Linked DNA regions of Homo sapiens. The protein of the gene in region 2 interacts with the protein of the main gene of each other region in a pairwise test. Each region holds a gene or a part of one and is shown on either strand. Other genes may lie near its edges. The genes, in order: STAT5A and POM121C.

Region 1 (3,777 bases), on a different chromosome or scaffold from region 2:
ACATGGGGCGTGGGCTTCCACCCCACTTGGGAGTTCCCAGAGACTTTGGTTCTCACCACTGTTCTTCCCTTGACAGCTAAAGCTGTTGATGGATATGTGAAACCACAGATCAAGCAAGTGGTCCCTGAGTAAGTGTCCAGGTGGCTGTGGCTCTCCTTCTGCCTCTTTCCTCCTCCCCCAGACCCTGCCTCCCATCCTGATCCTGGGCCCAGCTTTCCGCTCCCCCAGGGAACCTGTCTCAGCCCTGGGGAGGGAGTCCCCTCTCCTGTAGCTGGAGCCCCAGGGCCGAGTGGGGCACTTTGTCCGTCTACACCCCGAGAAAGACAAACATGCCCCTCGGTCCCCTCCCCAAGTCAGCTGCCCCGGCCTCCCTGGTGGCTGAAGCTCTGTTCTCTTCCTTCTGCAGGTTTGTGAATGCATCTGCAGATGCTGGGGGCAGCAGCGCCACGTACATGGACCAGGCCCCCTCCCCAGCTGTGTGCCCCCAGGCTCCCTATAACATGTACCCACAGAAGTAGGTGGTGTTCTCATGGGGTCCGCAGGGGAAGAACTGGGGACTTGGCCCCAGGCTGGACTCCTGGAGGGCTGGCGGGCAAAGGATCCAGAGCTCTGGTTAGGCCCAAGTCCAGGAGGAGTGAGATCAGCCAGGAAAACAGAGCATTTTGAAGCTAGACATAGCAGGGTCAAGTCCTCACTCTAGTACTAACTGTGTGATCTTGGGAAAATGATTGAGCCTCTCTGATGCTCAAGTTTCCTTATGTGTAAAACGGAGGCAAGAATGCTTGCCTCATGAGAATGGGATGAGCATTAAACTGAGACAGTGTGGGTGAAGCATTTCCACAGGGAGGGGCTTGGAAGGGCTTGATACAGGGTAGCTATGAATGGGGTGGTTGTTCTTGAGTCTGGTGGGAACAAGGTAGATAATTAATTCCCTTCCTCACTGTGGATAGCCAGGGCTGGATGTCTGGGAGGTACCACCTTCCAGTGGGACCACTGAAGATCCCAGGTTCCAATCCGGACTCCACCACCTCCCAGCCAGGTGGCCCAGAGCAAGCTTCCTGATATGGCCTTGGTTTTCTCGTCTATAAAACGGGGTCAATACCCACTCTCCAGTTGGCTGTAAAAATTGGAGTCATGTGCTCAATAGGCTCAGCTGTTCTAGGTGCTCAGTGAAAAGATTCAGCTGTTCTAAGTGCTCAGTGAACGGGGCGGTGCCTACCATTGCAGCTGAGCATCATTGCAGGTGGGCAGAGCCCACTGTGTCAGCCACCTGGTTTTAAGATGAGGACACGGAGAGGGGAAATGAATTCCCTAAGATTATTCAGTGAGTTAGCAAGAGATGCGAATAGAGTGGGGGTCTGCAGAAGCCAGTGGGCTGACTGCTACCCAGCTTGGGGTGGGGTGGGGGCATCCAGCCAGAACTGGTCCTGTTCTCATGAGACGGGTTTGAGTGGAGAGCAGGCTGGAGGCTGTCCCCAGGGAGCTTGAGGCTGTGAGACATGCCAGCTCCCTCTGACATCCCCCTGTCTTTACCAGCCCTGACCATGTACTCGATCAGGATGGAGAATTCGACCTGGATGAGACCATGGATGTGGCCAGGCACGTGGAGGAACTCTTACGCCGACCAATGGACAGTCTTGACTCCCGCCTCTCGCCCCCTGCCGGTCTTTTCACCTCTGCCAGAGGCTCCCTCTCATGAATGTTTGAATCCCACGCTTCTCTTTGGAAACAATATGCAATGTGAAGCGGTCGTGTTGTGAGTTTAGTAAGGCTGTGTACACTGACACCTTTGCAGGCATGCATGTGCTTGTGTGTGTGTGTGTGTGTGTGTCCTTGTGCATGAGCTACGCCTGCCTCCCCTGTGCAGTCCTGGGATGTGGCTGCAGCAGCGGTGGCCTCTTTTCAGATCATGGCATCCAAGAGTGCGCCGAGTCTGTCTCTGTCATGGTAGAGACCGAGCCTCTGTCACTGCAGGCACTCAATGCAGCCAGACCTATTCCTCCTGGGCCCCTCATCTGCTCAGCAGCTATTTGAATGAGATGATTCAGAAGGGGAGGGGAGACAGGTAACGTCTGTAAGCTGAAGTTTCACTCCGGAGTGAGAAGCTTTGCCCTCCTAAGAGAGAGAGACAGAGAGACAGAGAGAGAGAAAGAGAGAGTGTGTGGGTCTATGTAAATGCATCTGTCCTCATGTGTTGATGTAACCGATTCATCTCTCAGAAGGGAGGCTGGGGTTCATTTTCGAGTAGTATTTTATACTTTAGTGAACGTGGACTCCAGACTCTCTGTGAACCCTATGAGAGCGCGTCTGGGCCCGGCCATGTCCTTAGCACAGGGGGGCCGCCGGTTTGAGTGAGGGTTTCTGAGCTGCTCTGAATTAGTCCTTGCTTGGCTGCTTGGCCTTGGGCTTCATTCAAGTCTATGATGCTGTTGCCCACGTTTCCCGGGATATATATTCTCTCCCCTCCGTTGGGCCCCAGCCTTCTTTGCTTGCCTCTCTGTTTGTAACCTTGTCGACAAAGAGGTAGAAAAGATTGGGTCTAGGATATGGTGGGTGGACAGGGGCCCCGGGACTTGGAGGGTTGGTCCTCTTGCCTCCTGGAAAAAACAAAAACAAAAAACTGCAGTGAAAGACAAGCTGCAAATCAGCCATGTGCTGCGTGCCTGTGGAATCTGGAGTGAGGGGTAAAAGCTGATCTGGTTTGACTCCGCTGGAGGTGGGGCCTGGAGCAGGCCTTGCGCTGTTGCGTAACTGGCTGTGTTCTGGTGAGGCCTTGCTCCCAACCCCACACGCTCCTCCCTCTGAGGCTGTAGGACTCGCAGTCAGGGGCAGCTGACCATGGAAGATTGAGAGCCCAAGGTTTAAACTTCTCTGAAGGGAGGTGGGGATGAGAAGAGGGGTTTTTTTGTACTTTGTACAAAGACCACACATTTGTGTAAACAGTGTTTTGGAATAAAATATTTTTTTCATAAATTTGCTGCTATGGCTCCTGGTTGGGGCGTTGGTGGCCTCCCTGGGTGATGGGAACCCCTGGAGCTGGTTGTTCTGTTCCTTCCCGCGTGCATGCCTGATGCTGTCATTTTTAGTCTTAAATTTTAACTCTGCCCGCTTTGCTGTGGTTTTCAGGGTGCTGGCCACCCCTGGAATACTGTCAATGCTTCTCAGAAGGGTAAGGAGCCAGTTTAGGGGGCACAGATTCCTTAAAAAGCAGGGGACTCGAGGTTTGGGGAAATGATGGAGATGGGCGCGGGTGGGCAGAACTCTGACCCAGGCTTCTCCTTAGCAGCTGCTGCTCCCAGCAGCCTCGAAGCTGGCGGCTGAGGGCCCGGCGCCAAGATGCTTCTCAACCCTCGGGGCCAGGGGCAGTCCCAGAGCCGCAACAACCGTCCCATCCTCCTCCTTCCCAGAGACCAGCAGGTGGCACCACGCGGCTGCGCTGTTTTCAGCTGGCTGCCGGCGACTGTGCGAGGCGGAGGTGCAGCAAGCGGGACCGGCTCGCCCCGGCTGGACCCCCGCACTGCCGGCTGCAGCCAGTCCCTGCTGTCGCTGGGGCCCTTGGGCTCAGGGACGCGCGCTCCCTGGGCGGGGCTGGGAGCCAGGTTTGCGGGCAGGTTCCTTCTGAGCTCAGAGCTCAAGCGAGGGAGAGGGGCGGCGCGTGGGCCCCAAGAGGGAGGTGCAGGGGGCCCAGAGCAGGGGGAAGGCGGGGGTGGGAGAAGAGAGGAGGGGAGGGGACGGGCAGGTGCCACCGCCCCAGGGGGCTAATCTGATCCATCTCTG
Region 2 (4,525 bases):
TTTCCAAGTCCCAGAAAATCTTTTAAGTCCACAAGTAACAAAACTGGTTTCTCCTTATAATCAATGCAAACGATGTCATGGATGGTGATATGGTTTCGGTGTGTGTCGCCTCCCAAATCTCATGTTCAATTGTAATCCCCAATGTTCCCTCTTCCTCCTGCTCTGGTGATGGAAGATGCACCCACTTTCCCTTCACCTTTCACTTGACTGTAAGTTTCCTGAGGACTCCTCAGCCACGCTTCCTATGATAGAGCCTGCAGACGTGAGCCAATTAAACCTCTTTTCTTTATAAATTACCCAGTCTTGGTTATTTCTCTATAGCAGTGTGAGAATGGACTAATACAGATGGCATTTTCCTTTTGTGATGACTGCCAAGAGTATCAGTCCTAGGTGCGGCTCAATTTCAACAGCCTTAAAATATACTACCCATACATACAAGCTTCACAAATCATTTTTGGTGCTGATCTGCCACACTAACTATATTTTACAGGATAATGTCTATTTCCACATTCCCATTTTAAAGTATGAATCCTGGCTGGGCTCGGTGGCTCATGCCTGTAATCCCAGCACTTTGGGAGGCTGAGGCGGGAGGATCACCTGAGGTCAGGAGTTTGAGACCAACCTGGCCAACATAGTGAAACCCCATCTCTTCTAAAAATACAAAAAATTAGCTGGGCATGGTGGCCCACGCCTGTAATCCCTGCTACTCAGGAGGCTGAGGCAGGAGAATCACTTGAACCCAGGAGGTGGAGGTTGCAGTGAAGCGAGATCATGCCACTGCACTGCAGCCTGGGCAACAGAGCAAGACTCCATCTCAAAAAAAAGAAAAAAAAAAGTATGAATCCTTACAAACCTCTTAAAATGCATCATAAAATAAAGTTGAGGAACATATACACAAGCAGGAAAACTCACCTGCAATGTGTTCATTTTCTGCTGCTCTTGGAAACATGCAGAGACTGTGGCTGATAGACCTAGAGGGGCAGAAGCAGGTCACTGAAGTCATGAGGGCTCCGGCCTGCAAAGGCAGAAATCACCTGCATAAGAACCGCAAAAGAAAGCTCAATAGGCTAACACCCTGTGAACACTCAACCTGCAAACACTCAGAAGGGTCTAAAAGAGTGATACAGGGTTTCACCATGTTGGCCAGGCTGGTCTCAAATTCTGGCCTCAAGTGATCCGCCTGCCTGGGCCAACATGGCAAAACCCCGTCTCTACTTAAAAATAACAAAAAAAATTAGCCAGGCATAGAGTCACATGCCTGTAGTCCCAGCTACTCAGGAGGCTGAGGCACGAGAATCCTTTGAACCTGGGAGGTGGAAGTTGCAGTGAGCCGAGACCACGCTGTTGCATTCCAGACTGGGTGAGAGACACTGTCTCAAAAAAAAAAAAAAAAAAAAAAAGAGTGATAGGGGAAGCATGCGCCTGTAACTCTAAGATAATCAGGTAGTAATTAGATGAGTTAGACTCTCATGGGTAACATGACTCCTTTTACAAATAGTCTGCCATCATCATCAAATACAAGGCGCAAAAAGAAAAAAAATTCCCATTATACGGCTCATGTTTTTTGTGGTTTGTTGGTTGAGACAGGGTCTCAATCTGCCACCCAGGCTGGAGTGCAGTGGTGCATTCACGGCTCTCTGCAGCCTCGACCTCCTGGGCTCCATCCATCCTCCCACTTCAGCCTCCTGAGTAGCTGGGACCACAGATGCATCCCAGCATGCCTGGCGACTTTTGTATTTTTTGTAGTCAGGGTGTCCCCATGTTGTCTAGGCTGGTCTCTAACTCCTGGTCTCAAGGGATACTCTTGCCCTAGCCCCGCAAAATGCTCGGATTACAGGTGTGAGCCACTGCATCCCGCCCGCATTTTCTTATTGTCTCTTTAAACTGCTTAAAATAAAATAAGCCATAGGAATTGAGTATGTGAGCTCTCAGAAATGAAATGAATGTGTATAAAATATGGTTTTGTTTCTAAATTATCTAACTGAACTTGGTTATTGCTGCACCTAATAATCTTCTATTAAGAAAACTAGGATACGGGAGAAAGAACACTGGCCTGGGAGATAAGTCTCCTGGGTTCTACTATGAGCAGCTCTACCCACAAAGCCGGTGACCTGGTCAAGTCACCCACCTAAGGCCCAGTCTCTTCCCCTAGCAACTGAGGCAGCAGCAGAGAATCCCTGCAGACTGTTCCTGCATTACTACGATTCTCCCAGGGCAGGTCTAAGGGGGGGGATCAGCAGACACTTAAGTGAGAGAATAGAAGTGCTGACGGACGTTTAGAGGCGGTCGAAATCTGGAGCACGGAGAGGAGGAGGAAGGACTGTTAGGGGTTAGCGGGGAGTGGAGACGACGTCCGCAGCTGAGGGTGGTGACACCCTCCACGCCTCCGTAAGCCTCGTCCTCCCAGATCTTCCCATGCAGCACCTGTTCGGTGCAGCCGGACCCTGCCCTCAAACCCAACACATGTCTCTCCGGCAAGCAATCGGGACCCTCCCTCTGCCCCACACTCAAAGGTCCCCAACACAAGGTGACTTCACCCAGGCCCTTCTCGCTCCGGGCCCAAAAACCCAAGACTTACCCTCCTGGGGCTCCGCAGCCTCTGCCCCACGGCTCCCGAGAGGCCGGGGCGGGCTGCTGTCGCTGGCGCGCGCGTCTGCTCGCGAGGTCCCCTCCTGTCCACCTCACCAAGGCTGTTCTGCTCCCGAGGGGCCCGGGCCGGGCCTACGGGGCAAATCCAGGCGGGTGTCCTTCTCGGGGCCCAGATCCGCCTCCCTGGGGCTCCCGGCCCCTCTGGCCCCAGCGCCGCCGGCTCCGGGGTTCACGCTCGGGGGTCCCAGCTCGAGCCTCTACCCGGCCCGCGCGAACCCTGGGCCGCACAGCTCCCGCCCGCCTAGGTGCTGGTCCGGGCGGTCAGCATCCAGCCCCGCAGACTCGGTGATTCTCGTCCACTAGAAGCCAAAGCCTGGGAACGAGAGCAAGCGATGACCTGAAGAGGCACAGGAAGCGAGGGCAGTGCGGAGGTGGCGCGCATGTGCGAACACGCACGCAGGGAGAGGTGCACAAGCGCAGGAGTGCACCGGAAGTCCGCCTCCCGGGACACCCACCGCGGGTCCCAGGACAAGTAACGGACTCTATTTCCCAGGAGCCTACGCGCTCCCCCAGTTTTGGGGCCGTCTTAAATGTCTCTACCCTGCCTAAAGGTTAAGAAGCTCCAGGCTATGAGCTTTGGCAGCCCTGAACCCCGGACTGAACTTCACCTTTGTCTTTACTCCCTTTTAGGGTCAAATCCAGGGCTCCGTTACTGGGTCCTGGAGCCCAAGTCCTCTGGGTTAGAACGGAGTTTCCCATAAGGAGAAGGAAAGGAAAGGGTGTATCATGGTCACTGCTCTGAAATGCTGAGAAGTTTCACTCAAATACTGGGACAGGATAAATGCCCAGCGATGCTTTCCAAGGAACAAAAAGAAAATAGAATTTGTAGCTGGGCGCAGTGGCTCAAGCCTGTAATCCCAGCACTTTGGGAGGCCGAGGCGGGCAGATCGCGAGGTCAAGAGATAGAGATCATCCTGGCCAACATGATGAAACCCTGTCTCTACTAAAAATACAAAAATTAGCTGGGCGTGGTGGCGCGTGCCTGTAATCCCAGCTACTCGGGAGGCTAAGGCAGGAGAATCACTTGAACCTGGGAGGTGGAGGTTGCAGTGAGCCGAGATCACGCCACTGCACTCCATCCTGGCGACAAAGCGAGACTCCATAGCTTTTCTAGATCACACAGCGAATGCCTAAAAACCGTAGAGAAATAAGGACATACACACACAAACTGAACGAGGAAGAGATACCTGTGATCCTACCTTCCCCAGGAGGATTATGTTTAGGGTTAGGTTATGTTGACCAAAAAGAGTCAAAGTCTATAAAGAGTTTTATTCTGGGCCTCCTATTTGAGTGACCATGGCTGGTGACACAGCCTCAGGGGGTCCTGAGAACGTGAGCCCAAAGTAGTTGGGTTACAGCTTGGTTTTATGCATCTTAGGGAGACAGTAGTTACAGGCAAAGACATAAATCAATACATGGGAAGTATATGTTGGGTCAGCCAGGAAAGGCTTTCAGGTCACTAGTAGATTGAAAGACTGGCAGTTGGTTCAGAGTTAAGTGTTGGCTGAACAGCTGGAAGACTACATAAAGAAATGGGCCATTGCGGTGGCTCATGCCTGTATTCCCAGCATTTTGGGAGGGTGAGCTGGGAGGATCCCTTGAGGCCAGGAGTTCAAGGACAGCCTGGGCAACACAGCGAGACCCCCACTTCTACAAAAAAAAAAATAATTATCCAGGTGTGGTGGTGCATGCCTGTAGACTCAGCTACTCAGGAGGCTGAGATGGGAGGATCGCTTGAGCCTGGGAAGTTGAGGCTACAGTGAGCCATGATGGCACCACTGCATTCCAGCTTGGGCAACAGAGAAGAAAAGAAAGAGAGAGAGAGAAAAAGAGAGAGAGGAAGGAAGGAAAAAGAGGGAGGGAAAAAAAAGAAGGA

What was found.
Region 1: the proteins of POM121C (region 2) and STAT5A interact in a two-hybrid assay, tested with the Homo sapiens proteins (one large-scale study listed by BioGRID and IntAct).

What each region holds. Positions count from the first base shown.
Region 1 is NC_000017.11:42,308,971-42,312,747, forward strand, and holds the end of STAT5A (signal transducer and activator of transcription 5A), read left to right. Parts: intron 1-76; coding exon 77-128; intron 129-406; coding exon 407-514; intron 515-1,536; coding exon 1,537-1,699; coding exon of another isoform or gene 1,700-1,760; 3' UTR 1,761-2,973; downstream 2,974-3,777. UniProt on the Homo sapiens protein: Carries out a dual function: signal transduction and activation of transcription. Mediates cellular responses to the cytokine KITLG/SCF and other growth factors. Mediates cellular responses to ERBB4.
Region 2 is NC_000007.14:75,483,286-75,487,810, forward strand, and holds the start of POM121C (nuclear envelope pore membrane protein POM 121C), read right to left. Parts: upstream 3,015-4,525; 5' UTR 2,579-3,014; intron 1,035-2,578; exon of another isoform or gene 913-1,034; intron 1-912. UniProt on the Homo sapiens protein: Essential component of the nuclear pore complex (NPC). The repeat-containing domain may be involved in anchoring components of the pore complex to the pore membrane. When overexpressed in cells induces the formation of cytoplasmic annulate lamellae (AL).